3 separate regions of the Homo sapiens genome follow, and regions 2 and 3 are each linked to region 1. Evidence: fine-mapped expression QTL. A gene starts in region 1. Each other region holds a variant in brackets. All regions are shown on one strand. Distances are between the middles of the regions.

Region 1 (8,175 bases):
GCAATGGCACCATCTCAGCTCACTGCAATCTCTGCCTCCCGGGTTCAAGCAATTCTCTTGCCTCAGCCTCCCAAGTAGCTAGGATTATAGGCACCTGCCACCATGCCCAGCTAATTTTTTTTTTGTAGTTTTAGTAGAGACGGAGTTTCACCATGTTGGCCAGCCTGGTCTCGAACTCCTGACCTCAGGTGATCCACCCACCTCAGCCTCCCAAAGTACGGGCATTACAGGAGTGAGCCACTGCACTCGGCCTAATTTTTGTATTTTTAAGAGATGGGGTTTCACCATGTTGGTCAGGCTGGTCTCGAATTCCTGACCTCAAGTGAGCCACCTGCCTCGGCCTCACAAAGTGCTGGGATTACAGGTGTGAGCCACGGCGCCCAGCCTCTTTTTTGATTTTTCAAAACTGACTCTCATATTAAGGAAGCCAAAACTTAAGTGATAACTGAAATGATCGTGTTACTGACCACAGGTTCTTTAGGCTCCGATAAAAATTGACACGAGGCCAAGCAAATTTCCCAGACAAGGCTTTATTAGGGGCTTCCGTTCCACCACGGGGGAGACAGCACCGCAGGGAGAGGTCTCCGGCTGGCTCCCCAGGGGACTGCGTTGTGGCGTCTCGAGGAGGGCGACACGCGTAATTCATGAGGTAGGTGAGCGTCCCTGCAGGAGTGACAGAACGCACAGGGATAGTTAGGAATCGCGGTAACACATACATCGCAGGATCAGAACACGACGAGAAAGCCTCTCCCTGGCAGAGGCTTTTGTTTTGTTTCTGTCTGTCACCCAGTCTGGAGTGCAGTGACAAGATCTCGGCTCCCTGCAACCTCCGCCTCCCAGGTTCAAGCGATTCTCGTGCCTCAGCCTCCCGAGTAGCTGGGATTACACCACCACACCTGGCTAATTTTTGTATTTTTAGTAGAGACGGGGTTTCACCTTGTTGGCCAGGCTGGTCTCAAACTCCTGACACCTCAGGTGATCCGTCCGCTTCGGCCTCCCAAAGTGCTGGGATTCCAGGTGAGAGCTGCCGCGCCGAGGCAGAGGTCTTGGTCTTGTAATGAGGCCGAGGGTAAAGAGTGGTCGTGCTTCCGGCTTCCTGCACACAAAGGCAATGGAGTTCATTCCCTGAAGTACAAGATTGGAAGTGCGACGCTGCCTATCTTCATTTTTCAAGGTCGTGTGATCAGTGGATGTGGCATTTTGTGTAAGATTTACAGTGGAATGCTGCTTATCTTAATGCTTTCACTGTCCTTCAATGAGCAGGTAAGAAAAAAAAAGGAAGAAAGAAAAATGTTGGGGGGGGGAATGCATTAGCGAATGCATTAGTGGAGTTGGCAGCCGAGTCCCATCCCTCCTCTGTCTCAATAAGTGTCAGATGATGCTATCATATAATTTTGTGGGAAAAAATAGGCCAAAGAAATGAAATTCAGAAGGACTTATTCTTTTTGGTTCTAAAATCAGTTTCTGAGAGCTGGCAGGCCCCAACTGCCAAGAGGAGACCCTGGCGGCCACAGCTCATCCTCTCTGACCAAGCCTTAGCTGGGGATGGGCCGGCCTCCAGGCAGGGCCTCCCGCTGGCTGGATCCCGGGCCACACTGTACAGAAGACAACCCCGTAGAGACCTTGGGTGGGGCAGAAGCCCCCTTCCCTCACTGACACCCTGCCGGTCTCTCCTGGGGTCTCCCAGTCTCTGCTGCCCAGTGGGGAAGCACCCGTCTCAGCCCAACCGCAGCCCCCCCCGGCTCCCTCCTGCCCTTTCACCTTTCCTGCCATTCCCCACTGTGTCCTGAAGTTTCTAAGAACATCCCCAGCGCCCTGTTGTCAGCTCTGGGAAGTCTAAAGTTCAGGGCTTTGGGTAATTAAACCCAAGGCCTCTCAGTGGGCTGGGGGTGAATGACCTGGCGAACGTGCCTGCGGAGATGCTGGGAGGAAGCTGAGTCAGTCTGCGTCTTTGTCAGGGTGGGCTGAGGCCAGTGACCCTCTGGGGGTCAGGGCCCTTGCAGGCCTCTTCCTTCCCTGACCTCCACCTTAGGAGGCAGCTGGCCCCTGAGACGCCTGCCTCACGACATTGTCCTGTCCCAGGAACTGGACTTTAGGAGGAGGGGAAGCTGGAGGGGGATGCAGCTTGACTCTTGGGAGAGACTTTGAGGTGTCTGGGCACAGGAGTGGGGAGTCCTCCGGGTACCCCATCAGGGACTGCTTCCACTGCTTGTATGGCCTCACCAGCCCAGCGCAGGAAGCCCCCTCTCCCTTCCCAGAATTGACCCTCTGCACCCTCTCCTGGGCCCTCTTCTCACTACCTCCATCTCCACCATGCCCCAACAGAGCCCCTCCCCCAGGCCCCTTTGGCCGCTCTCCACACCCCACAGCTTTCTGTCTGACCTGGTTTCTTAGCCTCTCTGGACCTCAGCCTCCTTATCTGTAAAATGGGAATAAGGATACTACTTCCCTTGTAACGCGGTGGTAAAGTTTAAATAAGCTAAGGAACACACTGCATGTCCTGCGGGCCCTGGCACACCAGACATGCTGACAGACGCTGGCTGCTTTCATCAGCTATGCAACCAAATTCTAAGGGGCCCTTCGTATGTGTCAGGCTGCGTGCCAGGAACCTAGAGGTACCACCGTACCACAGTACAAGATGCTGTGTCTGGCTTCGAAGAGATTTCAGTCTATGTGGAGAGAGAGAAAAGGGAAGCTATCAGCCAATAAAATCGTTTGCAAGCCTGTAATTCAGCAGGTTTTCAAGACCTGTCAAATGCCCAGCAATCTCACTCTGCAACTCTGCCTCTTAAATACAGCATCTTCCGGCCCAGCGTGGGGGTGGCTAAGCCCATCATCCAGATGTGATGAACTGGGGTCTGGGAAACCCACACCGGCCTCATCTGGCTTTTCCAGCCTGTCCTCCCTTCCACACATCAGGCTGACAGCACCAAACACGGCCGAGGCCTCAGCCCTGAGTCTCCCCGCTGCAGAGTGCCCAAGCCTGAGTTCCAGCAGGTTCTTCAGGGGCCGCTGACCAGGGAACACTGCGGTGAGGAGCGAGGACTTCGTCCCCACCCCGGCCCAGGGCAGGGGCTTCGTGGTGAGCCCACCCCACCCCAGAAGGCTCCTGGAAGGGCAGGGCAGACTGGCAGCAAAATCCTATAGGATGGGCCGGGCCAGAGGCAAGGGGTGGCCAAAGGCACCTGTCCAAGAGGTGGGAGGGACCACACCTGGGGGCAGGGACGAGTCAGGCACAGGGAACTCCGCCAGCCTAGAGGATCAAATTCCTCCGGGGTGAACTCTGAGATAGAAAGTTGGCCCGGGAAGCTCAAGGAGGGAGAGCGGCAGAGGGGAAGACTCTGCAATTCTGCTTGCCCCCCACCCCGGCCCAGGCAAGCCACCCTGCCCCCGGCCCCCACCTGCCCGCCCCGCCTGCCCTTCCTCACCCCGGTGCCTGCGGGATTGCTGGAGAGAACGCGGCGATGGAGCCGGGCAGGACCCAGATAAAGCTTGACCCCAGGTAAGTGAGGGCGGCGGGCCCTGGGCCAGTCGCTGGGCAGCGGTGGCCCCTATCCCGCGGCCTGTCCTCTCTCCCTCCCAGAGCCCTTTGGCGGCCGCACTCAGAATGAGACAGGACTGGAAATGCTCTAGCTGTTCCTAGGTCCTCAGGGACAACGTGGGTTTGGGCCAGGGTGTGACACTCCAGGGCCTCGGCCTTGCCCCCCAGCGTGGGGAGAGAAAGGTCGCAGAGCGGGGGCTGTGGAAGGCATTCGCAGAGGAAATGGCAGCATCCCTCAGCAGCAGGGGGCCCGTCCGTCTGTAAGGACTCACCCTTCCTCTGGGATCCTGCTCTTCCTCTCTGGTCAGTCCCTGGGCTGCTGCCCGACCCGCATGGAGAGAATCCACGGTGGGCTCTTCAGGCACGGCAGCCAGGCACAGCCTGGCTAGGTGGCAGCTTGTCTTACTCCCCCACCTGGGCCAGTTCTCCACTCCCTCTAAGAAAAGGGCCCTGAGGCCGGGCGCCTGTAATCCCAGCACTTTGGGAGGCTGAGGCGGGAGTCCAGGAGTTTAAGCCCAGTTCCAGTTTGAGTCCTGGAGTTCGAGACCAGTGTCTGAGCAACATGGCGAAATCCTGTCTCTACCAAAAATATAAAAAATTAGCCGGGCCTGGTGGCGTGCACCTGTAGTCCCAGCTTACTCATGGGGATGGGGGTTGAGTAGATCACTTGAGCCCAGGAGGTCAAGGCTGCCTGTATGAGCCAAGACAGACCACTGCACTCCAGCCTGGACAACAGAGCAAGACCCTGTCTCAAAAAGAAAAAAAAAGAAAGAAAAAGGAAGGAAGGAAGGAAGGAAAGAGAAGGGGAAGGAAGAGAGAAAGAGAAAGAGAGAGCAGAAGGAAGGAAGGAAGGAGAAGGGGAAGGGGAAGGGAGAGAGAAAGAGAAAGAGAGAGTGAAAGGAAGGAAGGAAGGAAAGAAAGAAAGAGAGAGAAAGAGGCCCTGAGGGGAAATGGACAAAGTCCTGCACTCAGGAGTGGTTGAGGGTCCAGTGTGCAACCCTCCCCCTTCCCCCAGCCCCCATGGTTCTGAGCACAGGCTGGTGTCTCGCCAGGTACACAGCAGATCTTCTGGAGGTGCTGAAGACCAATTACGGCATCCCCTCCGCCTGCTTCTCTCAGCCTCCCACAGCAGCCCAACTCCTGAGAGGTGAGTGGGGACCCTCCTCAGAGGGAACTGAGAGGAGGGAAACCAGGATAGCTGAGTGGAGCTGGGGAGAGGCGGCCCTGAGCTGGTGCACCTGGGCAGCCGGGGAGAATAACTGGCCCGGTGTCTGTCATCGTGGTTAAGGCTCTGGAGAAGGGCAATGCCTCAAGGAGTCAGTGGGTCAAAAGGGTAGCATGAGAGCCTGGCTCCGGAGAGCAACCGTCATGTTGGGCCTCCACAAAACTGGCCTCAAAGCTCATTCAAACTGCGGACACTGCGACCTGGGGCGCTTTTTCAGACCCCAGAGCCATCTGGGGACCCAAGATGGTGCCCAAGTGGTCCAAGCCCCATCGGGTCTCCTGGAGGGCTGCACGGCATCCGCCCTGGACCCATGTCACTCTAGAGGGTGGTTACGGTGAGTGACGTGCTTCACACAGGTGAACCAGTTGTATTTGTTTTACGATCCAGCCTTTCTGAAAAACCTTTGTCCTCACTGGAGCATTCTGTTGTCGGGTTTTTGTGTGTGTGTTTGTGGGTATTTGCCTCATTCCACCCCTGAGCTCTCAGGTGGACAGATGGGATTCAAAAACCTGTTCTACAGTGTTTATTGTAGTGGAGTAATTTGTTTGCAATAATAAGTCATAATTGTCCACTGAAGGGGAGGGTGTGGGGATCCCCGAGGCCAGCTCAAGTTCAGCTGTTGGAAGAATTCCTTGACTGGAAATTTTACCTTTGCGTTTTGTCGCTCTGTTTCCTGAAGATAACTTGGGGTGCTCCTGGTCGTCCATCTACTGCTTTGATTCCTTGGATCCCACCCATTCTTTCACTTTAAGAAAAAACAAGTAATTGTTGCAGAGGTCTCTGTTTTGCAGCTTCCCTTTTGCAAGAAGCACTTTTTCCAAATAAAACAGTAATTAAAAAAAAAAAAACATAGGTGAACCTGCAAAAGTCCTCGCAGTGTTGGCCAACAAGATTCTATTACTGAATTACTTTTGAAAGTGAAAGGCATTGGCTGGGAGCGGTGGCTCACGCCTGTAATCCCTGCACTTTGGGAGGCCGAGGCAGGTGGATCACTTGAAGCCAGAAGTTGGAGACCAGCCTGGCCAACATGGTGAAACCCCGTCTCTACTGAAAATACAAAAATTAGCCAGGCGTGGTGGCGGGCACCTGTAATCCCAGCTACTCGGGAGGCTGAGGCAGGAGAGTTGCTTGAACTCGGGAGGCGGAGGTTGCAGTGAGCCGAGATCACGCCACTGCACTGCAGCCTGGGCAACAGAGTGAGTGAGACTCCGTCTCAAAAATAAAAGAAAAAAAAGGAAAAGAAAAAGAAAGTGAAAGGCATAGGATGGGGCTCAGCTTATTCCCCGGACACCAAAAACATTGAGAATCACGGCCCGAGCATGCTTAGAGAAAATGTGACTCACGCCTGCGTTTTATTTTGTTTTCCTGCTGCATACTGACTACCTCTGAAATGTTGGATACAAGTCTGTGTCTCTGTAGCACATTTAACACGTTTCCCAGGCAACAGGAAGCTCTCAGTGTGCGTTCTGTTGCAGACGTGGGCGTGTCCTTGGGCTGTGTAGGGCTTCATTTCAGATGATCTGAACCAGAGCGGTTGCCAACTGCCAGTGTCCGGAGATGCCTGGTGGCCACTCTGTGGTTAGTGGCAGTAGGTGGCTGCTACATCTAGTTCCAGTGAACCTCCTGTTGAGAGAGTGCAGCTGGTGGTACAAGCCTTCCCTTACACAGCAGCTGTCCCCCCAGGGAATATTTGGCAGTGTCGGGAGACTTCCGGTTGCCACACTGGAAGGTGCTACTGGCATCTCGTGGTCAGAGGCCAGGAAAGCTGCTAAACTTCCTACAGGGCACGGGAAGAGCCCCCACAGAAAAGATTATTCAGGCCAAAGTGTCAATAGTGCTCAGGTTGAGAAACCTTGCCTCACGCAATGAAAACGGTTCTCACATTGCTTTGCTTCAGAATGTGCAAACGGAAACCCCAAGGCTGTTCAGAACAGGCCATTCTGAGTCTGCTAGTCCAGCAAGCCTCGCCGCAGGCAGAGTGGGGAGGATTTGGCCAGCGGGCCCTCCTGGGACAGGGAAGCTGCGAGGATGAGTTCGGGGACGCCCCAGGCCCAGGGGAGCGAGGTCTGGCAGGATTCAAGGATCCTGGTGGAAGAGCAGGGGACAATTGAGAGGGCCGGGCAGGAGAGGTGAGGCCCGCTGCGCGCCGGGCTGGCGGAGGAGCTGTGCTTTATCCCGCAGCGAGAAGGAGCTCGTGAAGGCTCTGAGGCTGGGAGTGGCTGGATGAAAGTCGTGCTTCTCGGCCATTCGTTAGTAATCAGGATGGACTGCAGAGGAAGAGGCTTAAGAAGCAGGGATGCGGCCGGACACCGTGGCTCATGCCTGTAATCCCAGCACTTTGGGAGGCCGAGGCAGGCGGATCATCTGCGGTCAAGAGTTCAAGATCAGCCTGGCCAATGTGGTGAAATCCTGTCTCTACTGAAAATACAAAAATTAGCCAGGTGTGGTGGCGCGTGCCTGTAATCCCAGCTACTCAGGAGGCTGAGGCAGGAGAATCGCTTGAACCCGGGAGGCAGAGGTTGCAGTGAGCCGAGATCTCACCATTGCACTCCAGCCTGGGTGACAGAACAAGACTCCGTCTCAACAACAGCAAAAAATAGGCAGGGATGTAAATGAGAGGTCGTTGCCCCGGCCTGCCATGCGGGAAAAGAGTCTGAGGCAGGGCAGTGGCAGGGAAAGAAGAGGAAGGGTTGGGAAACAGGCAGTTCAAAGAAAGAGCAGGCAATCTAGGAAAGACCTAGGCGTGTAAGTGCTGGTTCTGGGCAATGGTGACGGCACAGCCAGAAATAGGAGAAGCAGGAAGAAGTGCCTCTGGGAGGCTGTGGCGAAACTCCTTCCTCGCTTCATTTGTAAACTTTGTTGTTCCTTAATTTTTCTTTTTTTTTTTTTTTTTGAGACAGGGTCTCACTGTGTCACTCAGGCTGGAGTGCAGTGGTGCGATCTCGGCTTACCCCAACCCTCCACCTGCTGGGCTCAGGTGATCCTCCCACCTCAGCCTCCCTAGTAGCTGGGGACCACAGGCACATGCCACCAAGCCCAGCTAATTTTTGTATTTTTTTGTAGAGGTGGAGTTTCTCCATGTTGCCCAGGCTGGTCTCGAACTTAAAATTAAATGCTAAGAAAACTATTTCAGGCCAGTCACGGTGGCCCATGCTGCAACCCCAGGAGGTCGAGGTTGCAGTGAGCTATGATTGCACCACCAGCCTCAGCCTGGGCAACAGACCGAAACCCTGTCTCAATTTAAAAAAAAGAGAGAGAGAAAAAAAAGCTATTATTCTAGAAGAATGATTGAATCAATTTTTTTTTTTTAATTTTAAAATCACGGCTCACGGCAGCTCGAGCTCTGGGCTCAAGTGATCCTCCCACCTCATCCTCTCGAGTAGCTGGGACTGCAGGCACACACCACCAT
Region 2 (8,175 bases), 20 kb after region 1:
CCTTGACCAAATGGGAAGCATTCCCCCTTGTCAACACAAGCTGGCAGATACATTTGACTCTACAGATGAAGGTGAACAATGTTAGAATAAAATTGCTTTGGATCTTGCCTGGAAGGTGTTTTAAGTTTTGTAATAAACAAGATGATGTCTGAAAATGTGTAACTGGGCACCTTGCCTCTGTCCATGTCACTATTAACCCTTCAAGGTTGTATATTGCTGGCTAGGTGCGACAGCTCATGCCTGCTATCCCAGCACTTTGGGAGCCTGAGGCGGGAGGATCACTTGAGCCCAGGAGGTTGAGGCTGCAGTGAGCAATGGTTGTGCCATACACTCCAGCCTGGGTGATACAGCCAGACCCTGCCTCTGGAAAAAAAAGAAAGCTTACTGAGCTTTCCTAAAGCAGATGAAAAGAAGAGTATATAGTATTGTGTCTGGCATAAGAAAAGGAGAACTTGGTGAGGTGAAATAGCACCAGCCCAGAGTCTTGAAGAAGCCAGGGGCCCTGGAGAACAGATGGAAGGTGACCTTTCCCTGACAGGTGTGCTACTACGGCACCAACCACGCGGGGCCCTGGTGGTCTGGGTCAGCCTCACTTTGTGGGACAATGGCTTTTGAGTCTTCAGTGACAAGCTAGAAAAGGAATCTCCTGACACTGTGGTCATGGAGCTTGATTTCTAAGGAGAGAGTCAGCACGTGGAAGCAAAGGCACCGAGAGTCCAAGTAAAAGTCCCAAATCCATAAAATGCACCACACAGGTCAAAACACAGGACACGGCCGGGCGCGGGGGCTCACGCCTGTAATCCCAGCACTTTGGGAGGCCGAGGCAGGTGGCTCACCTGAGGTCAGGAATTCGAGACCAGCCTGCTCAACATGGAGAAACCCCATCTCTACTAAAAACACTAATTAGCCAGGCGTGGTGGCGCATGCCTGTAATCCCAGCTACTTGGCAGGCTGAAGCAGGAGAATCGCTTGAACCTGGGAGGCGGAGGCTGCAGTGAGCCGAGATTGCGCCACTGCACTCCAGCCTGGGCAAGAAGAGCAAAACTCCGTCTCAAAAAAAATAAAAATAAAAAATAAAAACACCACTGGACATGGAACATCAGGTAAAACCACACTGCCTTTATTTGGCTAAAGAACAAAATCCAAAATAACTCAGAACAAACTAAGAACAGACAGGAAAATTACAGACTGAACCCCACTTGAGGAAGACTTCCCCACGGACTCACACTGGTGATGGGGCGAACGTTCAAGACGAAGCCAGCAGTCCTTTCCAAGACTCTTTTGTCTTTTAGGGATCCTCAATACAAAACAACCCAACTAATCCAGGATATGTGTTCAAAACAGTCAGTTTTCCCCCTCAAAAGGCGGGAAGGCCCACTTCAAACCTCCAGGAACACAACCCAAGTCATCCCAGTGTTAAACCTGGTGCTTCCGTTTTCTGCCTCAATCCGAGCGCTAACATAAAATCTTGGCAGACAACAATCTTTCTTCTTCAAGAAAATTAACATTTAATGGTATAATCCCAAGAACATGTTCTACTTATTTACTTGGAAAAATAGAAGCTAGGGACCACTCTTTATCCGATGGCAGTCTATTCTATGAGAGAAAACAAGAACAATCATTGTTATGACTTTGAAAAATAGAACCTTTAAAAATACTTATATTGGTAAGCTTAAAAAAATATCATCAGTTAAAAACATTAAGGGGGCTTTCTTTTTCTACCTGTATTGGTTCAACTTCTGGTGAGAATGTGTGCTGATAGAAAATCTAGAAGCTATGGCTTTTAGGGAATTAAAGAAAAGCAGCAAAATATAATTGATTTGGAAAGATTTTGGATAAGTGATCTGGAACAGGATTAAAAAGGCAAAGAGCTCTTGAAAATAAGCTACCCATAGTCAAAATAATCCAGGAAGGGGGAATGACGCCCTATGAACCACTGTGGAAAGAACATCTAGAGATGGTCTGACCAGCTGTGCAGCCTCCAAAAAAAAATCACTATCGCTCAGGTGCAGCCCCCCAAAAACCACCATCACTCAGGTACAGCCTCCAAAAACACCACCATCACTCAGGTGCAGCCTAAGGAGTCATCAGTGATCAGAAAGTGGCTAAGTTTCCTTAGCCTCCCTCATATTTTTTCTCTTCTTCAGGATTTTCAACCTCCTCACATCCCTAACTTTCTTACCCAAGCCTCAGCAATATAATGGTCTTTGGCTCTAGCTATCAGCAATAGCTGCAAGAGCACAAATGATCCCTTCCTAGTCCTCTAAAGTGTCAACCTCCATTCTTCAGTGCTTCTGAATCTAGCATAAGACCAAGCTTTCCGTCCGGCCCACCGGAAGGCAGTGGCTGCGCCGGCACCTCCCCGGCTCTGGCCTTCTAATGTCTCACACACAGAGGCTCTGCTCTAAGGCCAACACTTCTGGCTCTCTCATCTTGGCCACATTTGGCCCACCCATGTTGACTGCTTTCTCGTGTGTGATTCAGGGAAACAGCTCCATAGCCTCAAACGTTAATATCTGAAGATTTAGATCCCAGGCATTGTGGTGGTGTGCACACCTCTAACCTCATTTAATTAGGCACAGATGACCACATTATGCAACTTCCCAACAGCTTTCTCCATCTACCCGTGCTAGTCCAGCACCTCAGACCACATTTACCCCAAAGTATCTAACAGGCCACACTATAAAAGATTTTAGCTTTCAGTCAGACAAATAGCTTTCAGTCAAAACGATTAGACTGAGGTGGTAGAAGCTCACCAAAAGGGGAAAGGGAGTTTCCCAATAACATGTACGTTTGCTGGCCCTAGCAGTCTCAGAGGCCTGTCAGCCTGCAGGTCCCGTTCCAAGCACAGGGCATGCCAAGAGCAGCCCACTGAGAGCAGAGGAAGAGGGCTCAAACATTTGGGACCCAGACAATATATTTAGGAGGTATGGCTCCAATAGGGAGGGAGGAGGAAAACCACGTTCCGGGCATCTCCCTGTCTATCCAAATACACTTGCATAATGTGCACTTGGAGGAACCAAGCAGATGGGCTTCAGCACAGACTTCACTGCCACACCACACCAGGGAGAATAAGTTAGACAGAAACAGGCAGCATTCCCAAAGAGAGAAGGCTGACGCAGAAAAGTTCAAAGATGAGACTATGTAACACTGGGTAACACAGGAAAACACTAACTTCAGCTGTTTCAAAGACAGACAGGATTCCAAGCCAAAGCTTGTATGACCAGATTTAAGAGTAAGAACTGCGCTTCAAAGAAGAGTTAGAAATGTCGTTGTCATAGGCGATCAGGATAACAAGAGGCTTCATTCTCCCTCGCCTCTGTGACGCTCTTTCTGGGTGATCCAAGTTTTGTTTTTTTTCTAGTTGATTATTTCTCTTTATTTCTGTATGTGTGTGTGGTTTTTGTTTTGTTTTGGAGACAGAGTCTCGCTCTGTCACCCAGGCTGGACTGCAGCGGCACCATCTCTGCTCACTGCAACCTCCGCCTCCTGGGTTCAAGGGATTCTCCTGCCTCAGCCTCCCAAGTAGCTGGGATTACAGGTGCCCACCACCACGCCTGGCTAATTTTTGTATTTTTAGTAGAGATGGGGTTTCACCACGTTGGTCAGGCTGGTCTCAAACTCGTGGCCTCAAGTGATCCACCAGCCTCAGTCTCCCAAAGTGCTGAGATGACAGGCGTGAGCCACCACGCCTTGCCTGGGTGATCCAAGTTTTAAGAACCAAGGTAGTCCTGCTGTGCAGGCAATGATTCTAGCCTCTGACCCTCAGGCGGAAAACTAGGTGTTACCAGAAAGTGTTTAGGGAGTGGACTATGAGATGCTCACAGTCCTAGCAGAGGCAAGGAAAGAGAAAATGTGGTTTTCTTAGCTGAAAACACTAAAATTCCACCCCCACAAGGGGTATTTATGAGTGACAGGGGTGGGGCCTGGACATAAGCAATTTTCCCCTGGATCTAGCCACAGGATTACTGATGGGTGATGATCTGCTAGGCCGCGTAGCTAAGCAGCTAAGGAGACAGGAGGCCAGGGCTTTAAAAGTTAGAGCATGCTCAACAGCAAGTGCTAAGCATTAGCATTCTTTGATTTGAAAGTCAAGTGTTGAATCCCCCCGGGCAAGCCAACAAGGCAGATGGAACCACAACCACCAGGCGTGTGTGAAAAGTGGGGAGAAAACCTACCACACTCTTGTCACGTGAGGGTATGCTCTGTGGCTTGCTGGAGGAGCAGCAGAGGGAGGTCCCTGCCAGCTGCAGCTCTCAGAGGAAAAGAAAGATGTGGAGCACTGGTTCCAGGGAAGAATGTTCTGAAGAGGGACAGAGGTCAAGGTGATAAGGCTGTTGCTTTAGAAAGGAAGGTGTTTCCTATGCTTTTGCCTTTACATTCTGTGCAAATCTCTCTAATATGGCTATGACCAAAATGGATTAACATCAAGTTCCAACAGCAGACATTTACAAAGTATCCTTTGTAAAAGGCTAGGTAATATTAATAGCATTCAAATAGGAGTAGCAGGGCCAGGCACTTACTCCCAGTAGGAAACTAATCTCAAT[C/T]GACTTGGTATAGGATTGAGTATTGTCCCGCTCCTCTCCTCATCATTGTAACTCTAAAAGTGTTCCTTCCTTCGAAGGTAGATGGCACGAAAGAGACTGACAAAAGCTCCCAAAGAACTGGGTCACAGAGTTTTCTGAGAAGATGAACACAGCAGAAACACTGCAGTTGATGCCATGGGTCTGCTTCCATCCCCATCAGTGTCTTCATGGACCCCATTGGGTCCAACAAGAAACTCCTCAGGGAGTAAGAAAAGTTAGGTTCAGATCTCCTTCCCGCAGCCACAATGACACTGGTGACAGCAGTACGTTCAGGGGATTTGTGACTGTAACTCTGCTTTTCGCTTTTCCTTAAGGAAATCAAAATTAAGATATTTCTCCACAAATTACCCATCAGCGTGGCTCATTTCGTGAAGGACTTGGCAAGCCACATAGCTTCAGAACGGAAGGCAAATGCTATAGTATACCGGGAAGAAAAGGCCTCTGCGTATTACACTACCTCCTTCTTCTGCCCACTCCTCAGGGGCAAAAAATTAGTTCTACATTTGAAAGACGAATTTTTTAAAAAATTAATGAAAATGACAATTTCCCTGTTGAGATCACGTGAACATAAACAGTGAAACAAAGCCCTTGGGGGGGGGTAAATGGATGCAGAGCAGGCTTCTAAGGTGCAGTCCCCCTCCTTCGTGTGGGTGAGTGATGTCACTTGCAGGACAGGCTGTTTGGGTTCCCCCAGTCCTAGGTCTTCTTTCCCCAGTTGTCTTTCCTTTGTAGCTGTCCTTAGGTTTAGTGTTGGGGTCACAATTTGGAATTCAACAGAGAGCTTCTGAAGGTAATGGGACAGAAAGGGAGGACAGGAAAGGAGGGAGGAAACATTAGTCTTCTTCATCCTCACTGATATCATAGGCTGCAGCCTTGTGCCTGGAGAGATTTGCTGGGGAGCAAGGTGGGGAAGTCTTGCCGGAGAAGGGCCATCGGAAAGAGGGGGAGGGGGAGCGCTCGCGAGTAGGGCTGCTGCTGGGGCTCTGCTTCGGGCTGATGGCCTGCAGCATCCGGCCCTTCCCCTCTTTCAGCATATGTTTCTGCAGAAACCGAAAGGAAGAGTCAGAAAAACACCGTGGATCCTACTTAATCATCACTGAAGCATCTAGGACTGGGATAGTCTATGCTGTACTATTTATTTAAGGGTTCTCCCCTGCTGTCATCACCCGGGAAATTCCCCATTCTTCCTCAATAATCTAGTCTAGGATTATTCTAATTTATCCAAACACCTTCACAGACAGATCCTTCCTGATATCTAACCTAGGACTCACTTGCTCAATCTTTTATTTGGTTGAAAAGACTGCTACTCCTCAAAGACAGAATTCCCACCTTACCTGGGGTTCCTGCTGCAGCTACTTGTAGTGGAGGCTGCTTTCTTTTTATTGTTCTTTATTCTTTCCTTTCCTTCTATCTAAAATCATACCACAGATAAAAGCTGGGCAAGGCGACTTGCTTATCTTGTCACCAGACTTTAAGGTTGAGAGAGAGCTGGCAAAATTATCTAGGAGAATGTGTAACGTCTTTCTGTAAAGGTTTCAAAAACCTTGCTGGGGACAGTTGAAAGATAGTTCTGCCCAGATAAGGGGATAGACTAGATAACTTCTCAGTGTCGATGCCCCTTCCTGCTCAATGATTCTGTCATTCTTTCCACAACATGGAACTCCCTACATTGTCCAGTGGGAAAGAACATACCAGTGCTCCTTCCGGACCAAACATTTCCAGAAAACTTCCAATGAATTCTCGGGACTTCTCCTCCCACTTCTGAATGAGGTCAATGCTTTTTTCCTCCACCTTCTGAACAAATTCTTTTGACTTTTCCTCCACATCTTTCACTTTCTTCTTTACTTTGTCAACCCTCTCCTGCAAGTGGTATTTCTTCTCCTAGATAAAGAAATAACTCTTCTGAGAAATAATGCTCATCCTAAACTTCTCTACCATAAGAGAACGAAAAAACATGGCTCAAGCACTCAATTGACACTGTTTTCAGTCTAGAATTTTGCTTTGCTTTAATCTACCCCACTCTCAGCATAATAACAGATAAGATATGCTGTGGATGCACACACAAGAAGTGGTAATTCTAATATTGTGGGCATTTGGGAATAAACTAAAAATATAGGCTATACCCAGTAACAGGCACGTAGCCAAATAAAGTCAGAGTTTTAAAGATAAAACATAAACTTGGAACATAAACATGCGCAGCATGGCCCGAACCTCATTCCAGACGGAGATACAGAGGCAGCTAAAAGATCACTGCACAATACTGCCAAGAATAAACTAATTACAATAGATTGAAAGAGAAAATACTAGATCTTTTACTTAATTAATCTGCTTATTGTACTGGATTTTTCCCCTCTATCACTGGCTTATTCTATTATTTTAAATGAATTGTGTTTTTTGCTTTTTGTTCCTTTAGTATTTTAAGGTCCATTTACTCATTTGCAAAATGATGATACTCGTTGGTCTTACCAACTTTGCTAAAGATAAGGAAAATGGTATAAACCCTCCGGTGGAAGGGAAGGGAGTATTTAGTCAAATGAGAAGTATCCTTGGCCAGGCACAGTGGCTCATGCCTGTAATACCAGCACTTTGGGAAGCCGAAGTGGGAGGACTGCTTGAGGCCAGGAACTCGAGAGCAGCCTGGACAACATAGCAAGACCTCATCTCTACTAAAAATAAAAATATAAAAAATAAGCTGGGTATGGTGGCCTGTGCCTGTAGTCCCAGCTACTCAGGAGGCTGAGATGGGAGGAGCACTTGAGCCCGGAGGTCAAGGCTGCAGTAAGCCAAGATTGCGCCACTGTACTCTGGCCTGGATGACTGAGTGTGACTCTATCTCAAAAAAAGAAAAAGAAAAGTACTCTCAAAATTTCCAGATCATAAAGAGAAAAGGGATTATGTTTAGAATTTTTAAACACCTGATTTTTATGGGAAAAATAAAGCTATAGTAAGTAAATTAACAAGAGCTAGGGTTTATCTGCCTAGATAAATCATATTTAGATGTAATCATTTTATCCATTCTTATAGCACAATTTACAGAGATGGGAGTAGGTCAGGGAGCATGGTAAACTGGTTATGTAGAAGACATTAAAGTTAGCAGCTTTCTTCTTTTTAAATCGATTTTATTGAGGTCTAATTTACATACAAAATGTATAGTGTTGGCTGGATACGGTGGCTCATGCCTGTAATCCCAGCACTTTGCGAGGCCAAGGGGGTCCGATCGCTTGAGGCCAGGAGTTTGAGACCAGCCTGGCAAACATGGCAAAACCCCATCTCTGCTAAAAAAAAAAAAAAAAAAAAAAAAAAAAAAAATTAGCCAGGCCTGGTGGCACATGCCTGTAATCACAGCTATTCAGGAGGCTAAGGCACCAGGAGACAGAGGCTGCAGTGAGCCGAGATCACGCCACTGCACTCCAGCCTCGGTGACAGAGCGAGACCCTGTCTCAAAAAGAAAGAAACACTACATATATATATATTTGCATGAATTTTTTTAGTTTTTTTGTTTGTCTGTTTGTTTAGAGATGGGGTCTCGCTATGTTGCCCCCAGACTGGTCTCAAACTCCTGGCCTCAAGCAGTCCTCCCGCCTCAGCC
Region 3 (8,175 bases), 440 kb after region 1:
AGTCAGGGTCCAACCAGGAAACGGAAACTGCCCAGATTATTTAAGACAGAGGATATTTAATGCAAGAAAGTGGCAACACATGGTGGAAAAGGCTGAGAAAGCAAATAAACAGTCAACACAGCGACGAGCAGCTTCAGGAAGCTTCTTATCCTCACCTAGGTAGGGTGAGGACAAGAGGAGAAGGTGGGCCAGGCACCATGACTCACGCCTGTAATCCCATCACTTTGGGAGGTCAAGGCGGGCAGATCACCTGAGGTCATGAGATTGAGACCAGCCTGGCCAACATGGTGGAACCTCATCTCTACTAAAAATACAAAAATTAGCCAGGCGTGGTGGCGTGCACCTGTAATCCCAGCTACTTGGGAGGCTGAGGCAGGAGAATTGTTGAACCCGGGAGGTGGAGTTTGCAGTGAGGCGAGATCACAACATTGTACTCCAACCTGGGCAACAAGAGCAAAACTCCGTCTCAAAAAACAAAACAAAACGAACAAAAACAAAGAGGAGGAGGTGGTGTCACCAGAGCCTAGGGGTCAGCGGAAGAAACTCTAGGATGTCTCTGTCCAAGGCAGAGAGGAAGGGAGAGAAGTATGCTGGATTCTTTCTGCCCTCTACTGTCTGACCTCCCAGGAGGAGTGTCTTCCATTGACTAAACCAGCAGAGTTTGTGACAGGTGACAGCAGTTTGAGGCCAGGTGACAGCAGAGTTTGAGATTCAGAACCTTCAGAAGTCAGAGCCCTGCCACACTGAGGAGGGCAGGGAAGGGGAAGGCGCAGCTCTGGGGACAAACCGCTGTCAGCCAGCATAGTCATCTGTGCTCAGGGCTAGCCTTGCTCTGCAATTTATGAATGCAGAGTTTTTAATTGAACCTTCCTGCATATGTTTTACATATCTAGTTGGTATAATTCATCCTTCCAGCCACATTACTCAGGCCTTTATTTTAGACTTTGTGTAGCTGTTGAACTACCTTGGAGATTACACAGGAATAACCAGCACTCAGTCAACTCACTGGTGTTTGGAACTCACAAGTAATAATTAATAATTGTGTTACTTGCTACCTTTACAGCCATGAAGCCCTTTCACATTCATGAGACTGGTTATTCTCATGCAACTCTGGAATAGTTATTATTACTCCCATTTTGTAGACGGATTCTCTGAGTCTTGGAGACTTTGTCTGAATTCCTAAAGGACAAATAACAAATAACAGAGGCAGAATTCAAACTCTGGTCTGCTTGGTTCCAAATTCCATGATCTTCCCATGATATCCTGCTGCTTCCTGCCAGGGCCACAACAAGAGTTTTTTTCTGGGCTGGTTGGCTGAGTTTAGGAGGAAGGAGAGGATATGTTTTAAACTTGCAAAATTCTTGATGACCCATAAATTAAAATGCCCCTCCTGAGTGTGACACAAGGCCTGGCTTGCCTTCCAGTCTGAAGGTTGCCTTTTCGCTGAGGGACCTGCACTCTTGCCCCTTACACGTCTAGATTCAGTTCTTCGATACGCAGGGCTGGCTCTTCCAGAGAGACTGGAGTCACAGCAGCAGGTACCACCCCACACCTGACAAGAGGTGGCCAGGGAGGAAGGGAGGGTTCTTACCTCCCCATCTCCCCTCAGTAAAATTCAGGATGCCCAGTGAAGTTTGAATGTCAGATAAACAATTTGTTAGTATAAGGATGTATCTAGCATTGAAATGATGCCTTGTAATTTACTAAATCTGCAACTATGCAGCCTTATTTCATGGCGGGCAGTGGTGGTGATCCCAGGTTTCAGGGGCGGGGAAGGGTGCTGGGGGGATCCTGAGGTCAGGAACCCGTACACCTCTGCTTCTGCCCTCTCTTCCCTGTGCCGGCCACAAGGCAATGACTCCTGTGTGGGTGCAGAGGCAGAAATGGGTCTGGAAGGGGATTCCCAGTGTCTGGCAAGTTCTGGTAAATTCTGCATTGGAGGTTCTCTCTGTAGTAAGGGGAGTTGGCCTGGCCTGAAGTGAAAGCTGGCTTACCCGGTTTCATTGAGCTCTTCAATTAGTCTGTTTGCACTGGTGAGCATTCAAATCTGATCAAGAAGGTAAAATGAGCTTTCAAGATCCCTAAATGCATTTGAAGAAAGGAAAGAGGAGGCCCCTGAGTGGCTGGAGCGAGCAGGTGGGGTGAGCTGGTGCCGCTGGCCCAGGAGAAGATGGGAGGGCAGACACTGGGCCTCCGGTAGGTGTCAAGGAATGGGCAGATGGAATGCTGGGGCCAGCTCTTGCCTCTGGGTCTGCAGAATGCAGAGCTGGGGGCATGCACTGGGCGTCAGGTCCCCAGCAGGGCAGCAGTGAGTGCAGCCTCGCTGCTGGGAGAAACTGCCCTGCTCACTCATCGGAGCTCGGGGAGCGAGGCGGGGCTGCTCTTAGCCCTGCCACTAAGTTCATCCACAACCTCGAGTAGTATCTCTGGGCCTTTGTTCACCTGGCAAATGTGATGAGTATATTGCATTTCCCTTATGGCTCCCCTTAGTTCTGAATCTCTGCTGGTGCGTGTATACCTTCAAGCCTTCTCATTATTGCTGTTCTCTGTGCACTGGCCAGGCAAGCGGGCTGGCAACCACGTTTCGTTAACCACCTTTATTCTACCCAAAGATTGCTTCTTCATTTTCCCTCCGTGTTTCCCCCGTCCAAGCAAAATATCAAACCTCTTTTTTCAAAGGGTCATAGTCAAATGAGTGAACCAAAGAGATCAACGCTTTTGTAACAGCCCCACATCAGCAGCTGAGGAGTAACTCTGGGACAGAGGCCCCCATCCGTGTTTCCGTCTCCGTCCACTCTCCAGTTGTTCATTCATTCACTCAGCAAGTACTTACTGAGCTCAGGGGATGCATCAGACCGATTGGAGCTGGAGGCAGGAAAACTTCAGCAGAATTACAAAATATGGGAAACTCCAGGTGACTGGAGGCCTGGTTACTCAAGCTTTTTGCTTCTCCCTTCTGTGCTGGACTCGCTGAAGTTTAGTGTTCAGCCACCCGTCCATCAAGTGGTAGAGGCAAAATGAAATTGAGTTCTTGTCAACAGTTTCAGTGAAAGGCCGGAAGTCTTGGCTAAATGGAGGTATCTGAGTATCCTGTGGGCTGCACCTCTATGGAGCTCCACAGAGCTCCAAGACCACATAGAATTGGAACTGGCTCCTTCTGCCGATAATACAAACAGCCCTCTGGGATGTCCTTCTCTGACTTACCTCTTCCCTGCTCTCTGTCCACAGGGCTGCCCTTGAGATGGAGTTGCTGCCTCTTTGGCTCTGCCTGGGTTTTCACTTCCTGACCGTGGGCTGGAGGAACAGAAGCGGAACAGCCACAGCAGCCTCCCAAGGAGTCTGCAAGTTGGTGAGTTTCCCTTGAACCCTGATCTGTCGGCTGCTCCTGTCCTGACAAGGCTTGGTCCATTTGGAAAGCTGACAGATTGTCCATCAGGAAGGGCAGAGAATGAAGGAGCCTGCATCACTCTGTGCCTGCCTAGCACAGGGGCATGTGCAGCTGCCCTTTAACCACAGGATTTTAAGATGCTTCCTGGGAAGAGCCAGGCAGTCCCTGCCCCGCCGTTCTCACGCCTGCTGAGGATAGGAGGCATCCGAGACCAGCCTAGGGCATCCTCCCGGAACAAGAACAACTTGTTAAAAATCTGGATGATTCAGGCCGGGTGCAGTGGCTCAGGCCTGTAATCCCAGCACTTTAGGAGGCCGAGGCAGGCAGATCACTTGAGCCCAGGAGTTGGAGACTAGCCTGGGCAACATGATGAAACCACATCTCTACAAAATACAAGAATCAGTCAGGTGCGGTGGCACACACCTATAGTCCCAGCTACTTGGGAGGCTGAGA[T/C]GTGAGGGTGGCTTGAGCCCAGGAAGTGGAGGTTGCAGTGAGCTGAGATCATGCCCCTGCACTCCAACCTAGGTGATGGGGCCAGACCTTGTCTTTAAAAAAAAAAAAAAAAAAGCCAGGCGCGGTGGCTCACGCCTGTCATCCCAGTACTTAGGGAGGCCAAGTCCGGCGGATCACCTGAGGTCAGGAGTTCGAGACTAGCCTGGCCAACATGGTGAAACCCCGTCTCTACTAAAAATACAAAAATTAGCTGGGCGTGGTGGTGCATGCCTGTAATTCCAGCTACTTGGGAAGCTGAAGGAGGAGAATCGCTTGAACCCGGGAGACGGAGGTTGCAGTGAGCCGAGATCACACCCCTGCACTCCATCCTGGGCGACAGAGTGAGACTCTCTCAAAAAAAGAAAAAAACAAAACAAAACAAAAAACTGGATGACTGAGCTGCACCGATGGTATGAGAATCTCCGGGTGAGGTGCTTGAGAGCTGGAGAAGCCTGCCTCGGAGTTTGTGGACGAGTTGACCGCTAAGGCTTACACAGCTGCGGGGAGGACTTGCTGCCATGCCACTCTGCAGAGCGGCAGCCCGGACCACGCTCAGGCTAAGAAGACCCGGAGCGTGGATACCCAAGCCTCCTCTAGGGCTTTCAGCCTAGATGTGAAAATAGACTTGGGTCCAAACTGAGAAATTTCCAGTAATTTTCCCCTTCATCTATATAACAATGATATCAAAAGTCTGCTCAAGAAACACATATTTAGGCCAGGTGCATGGCTCACGCCTGTCATCCCAGCACTTTGGGAGGCCGAGGCGGGCAGATCACAAGGTCAAGAGGTCGAGACCAGCCTGGCCAACATAGTAAAAACCCGTCTCTACTAAAAATACAAAAATTACCCAGGCATGGTGGCACATGCTTGTAGTCCCAGCTACTCGGGAGGCTGAGGAAGATTGCTTGAACCTGGGAGGCAGAGGTTGCAGTGAGCTGACATCGTGCCACTGCACTCCAGCCTGGGTGACAGAGTGATACTCCATCTCAAAAAAGAAAAAAAAAATGAAACACATATTTAATAAACATTTCTTGAGCCATATTATATACTAGGCGTTGGGAAGACAAATTGGATGTCAGGGCTAACACTTACATTCAAGTATGTATTCTTAAAGCATAGCTGTCATGGTTTTTAACCTCTTTTAGTAGGAACCTATAACCACTGTGCTAGAGTCTATTCCAATATGACATAGAGGTTACAAGCTAGACTGGCCTGGTTTAAACCCAGCCCCACCCTTAGCTGGTGACATTGGGGTCACTCTAGGTCATAGTTTCTCCATCTGTAGAATATATACGTAATAATAATATCTACCAATAACATCATGCTGTGTTGACTGATGATTAAATGGGTTAATACATGTAAAGCACTCAGGACAGTGCCTGGTAGGTAGTCAGTGCTACGCGTTTTATCCGTTATCACTCATATTATTATTAATCTCTGCTATGTTTGACCTCCAGCATTCTCTTACAGAGGCAATAAAGGATTAACTACACAGTAGTTATTCAGGGGTTACCAGGCACAGGAAGAGGAGAGATAAATGAACAGCCTTTCAGAGTTCAGGCAAGGCCCTCTGCTTGACACTTTCTGGCCCAGTGGGCAGGAGTAGAGAATTGGCTGCCAGGAAGCCCAAAGAGTGGGTTTCCTGTGGCTCTTCCGAGTTGAGGACTGAGAATTGGAGAGTCTGGGTGCCCTCCACTGGCCCTCATCACATTATCCATTTGACCTTATTAGAAAGTGGACGTTGGCCAGGTGCGGTGGCTCCCGCCTGTAATCTCAGCACTTTGGGAGGCCGAAGCAGGCAGATCACCTGAGGTCAGGAGTTTGAGACCAGCCTGACCAACATGGTGAAAGCCCGTCTCTACTAAAAATACAAAAATTAGCCAGGCATGGTGACGGGCACCTGTGATCTCAGCTACTCAGGAGGCTGAGGCAGGCGAATCGCTTGAACCAGGGAGGCCGAGGTTGCAGTGAGCTGAGATCGCGCCACTGCACTCCAGCCTGGGCGACAGAGCAAGACTCCGTATCAAAAAAAAAAAAAAGAAAAAGAAAGTGGACATGGTAAGCTTTTCTGGGATGGCCATATGGTCCTTCTACATCACTTCAGCGGGGCCACAGGGAATTGCAGAGGTGTGACCCACGACTGCAGCAGCTGTGGTGGAACAGCACCCCATAGCGTGAAGAAAGCCCCTGACCACAACATTCTCCAGTGAGTCCACACGCAGGGAGGAGCGCAACACCCACTCACATAAAGACACACACCTGGCCGGGCGCGGTGGCTCACACCTGTAATCCCAGCACTTGGGGAGGCCAAGGCAGGTGGATCACCCGAGGTCAGGGTGGCCAACATGGCAAAACTCTGCCTCTACTAAAAATACAAAATTAGCCCGGTGTGGTGGTGTGAGTCTGTAATCCCAGCTACGTGGGAGGCTAAGGCAGCAGAATCGCTTGAACCCGGCAGGCAGAGGTTGCAGCAAGCAGAGATGGCGCCATTGCACTCCAGCCTGGACGACAAGAGTGAGACTCTGTCTCAAAAAAAAAAAAAAAAGATAAAAATTCTCTTCCAGAGTACTTTGTAATTATAATGCAATCCCAATCAAAATACCAAAGAGGGAAGGGGGATGTGGAAAGAACTTGGCAAATCCTTTCTAACGTTCGTCTGGAAATTAGAGAAACCCAAATGCTCAACAATAGGAGATGATTAATTAGATCATCCTAATAATTATAGCTCACATTTATTAAGCACAGTAAATGTGTTTCACCTCAACAGTCACACTTGATCCTGAAAAAAAACGCTATGCGAAAATGACGAGTATAATTTCGGTTTTACAGGCAGGGTAATGGAGGTCTCTTTCGGTTCCGTAACCATCCAAAGGTCACCCATTTGATCAAAAGCAGAGCCACGAAGCATTGGCCCTGGAACTCTTGCTCTCAGCCACTGTGCTATTCATGAGATGAATGCATATGCTTCCTAAAAAGATTATGATCACATTTATTTGTACTGCCAAGGCAATAAGTCCGTCATACTTTATTGACAGGGGGAGAAAAATAGGTTACTGAACAGTTTGCACAGTATGGTCTTATTTTTGTTTTTTAGACAAAGGTAGGTAATATCTTACGAAAGATCCAGAAAGACATGGAACAGAAGGTGACTGGTGTTTCTCTGAGAGAGAGGCGGAGGTGACAGAAGAGTTGAGGTTTCCATATGTCAATACAGTATCAATGTTTAATTATTGGAAGGTTTTATTTTAATTATCAGATAAAGAACCCGAGGGGCCAAGAAATTCCACTGCTAGTGGTGGTAGAGCCGAGATTCAGATTGAGTCTGTCCTCCAAACCTGTGCTTCTTCTAACCTCTCTCTCGGGATTTTCCTCTTCTGTTGCCGTGCTGCACTTGCCCTCTGGGATTGAACCCACAATTGTAGGCAACCACTGCCCTTGTATTACTGATAAACTTGTGCAAACGAATGCCATTGCTCCTCTATCTTATCACTTAAAACTTCTTTCTGGCCGGGCACGGTGGCTCACGCCTGTAATCCCAGCACTTTTGGGAGGCCGAGGCAGGCAGATCACCTGAAGTCAGGAGTTCGAGACCAGCCTGGTCAACATGGTGAAACCCCGTCTCTACTAAAAATACAAAAAAAGTTAGCTGGGCGTGGTGGCATGTGCCTGTAATCCCAGCTACTCGGGAGGCTGAAACAGGAGAATTGCTCGAACCCAGGAGGCAGAGATTGCAGTGAGCTGAGATCACACCATTGCACTCCAGCCTGGGTGACAGGGTAAGACTTCATCTCAAAAAAACAAAAAACAAAAAAACCATTTTTGTCCTAGACACCTAAATAACATCCTATGGCTGATGGTTGTTTTTGCCAATTTTGCAAAGCGTGGGGTGAATTAAAGTATCCTGCACGTGTGCTTTCTGCAGTGCGACCAGGGTGGCCTCGTCCCTCCCGCCTCCTTATTCTGCATGATCAGAGTAGAGCCCTGTTTAGGAAAAGCACTGAACTGGGCATTCAGAGCCCTGGGCTCCAGTCCCGGCACAGCCACTGGCTCTTCACTTCTCCCCTCCAGACCCACTTTACTTCCCTGTACAATTCAGGATGGTGAAAGCTCTCAAGTCCTTTTTTTTTTTTTTTTTTTTTTGAGATGGAGTCTTGCTCTGTCGCCCAGGCTGGAGTGCAGTGGTGCAGTGGTGCAGTCTCGGCTCACTGCAATCTCTGCCTCCTGGGTTCAAGCAATTCTCTGCCTCAGCCTCCGGAGTAGCTGGGATTACAGGTGTCCACCACCACACCCGGCTA

The links. PIP is the estimated chance that this variant, and not a neighbour inherited with it, causes the effect.
Region 2: its variant is fine-mapped to the expression of SLC51A in minor salivary gland (GTEx, PIP above 0.99).
Region 3: its variant is fine-mapped to the expression of SLC51A in minor salivary gland (GTEx, PIP above 0.99).

The regions. Positions count from the first base shown.
Region 1 is chr3:196,213,249-196,221,423 of GRCh38, forward strand. It overlaps SLC51A (solute carrier family 51 member A), which reads left to right and starts at 3,286. Exons shown (of 9, transcript NM_152672.6): 1 at 3,286-3,502; 2 at 4,594-4,688. The coding sequence starts at 3,465. LOC124909479 (a long non-coding RNA gene) reads left to right here. Exons shown (of 4, transcript XR_007096240.1): 3 at 473-649; 4 at 1,175-1,394. It overlaps LOC105374304 (a long non-coding RNA gene), which reads right to left and starts at 7,143. Exons shown (of 4, transcript XR_001740544.2): 1 at 6,110-7,143; 2 at 5,416-5,511; 3 at 937-1,096; 4 at 515-663. RefSeq lists enhancers at 5,988-6,137, 6,218-6,397 and a silencer at 6,050-6,344.
Region 2 is chr3:196,233,269-196,241,443 of GRCh38, forward strand. It overlaps SLC51A (solute carrier family 51 member A), which reads left to right. Exons shown (of 9, transcript NM_152672.6): 9 at 1-159. It overlaps PCYT1A (phosphate cytidylyltransferase 1A, choline), which reads right to left. Exons shown (of 9, transcript NM_001312673.2): 8 at 6,279-6,467; 9 at 1,100-5,626. The coding sequence ends at 5,420. Among named protein-coding and RNA genes, the nearest start is that of SLC51A, 21 kb to the left of the region's middle. The variant C/T (reference allele first, on the strand shown) is at 4,548.
Region 3 is chr3:196,651,299-196,659,473 of GRCh38, forward strand. It overlaps NRROS (negative regulator of reactive oxygen species), which reads left to right. Exons shown (of 3, transcript NM_198565.3): 2 at 3,229-3,349. The coding sequence starts at 3,242. Among named protein-coding and RNA genes, the nearest start is that of NRROS, 16 kb to the left of the region's middle. RefSeq lists an enhancer at 1-219. The variant T/C (reference allele first, on the strand shown) is at 3,842.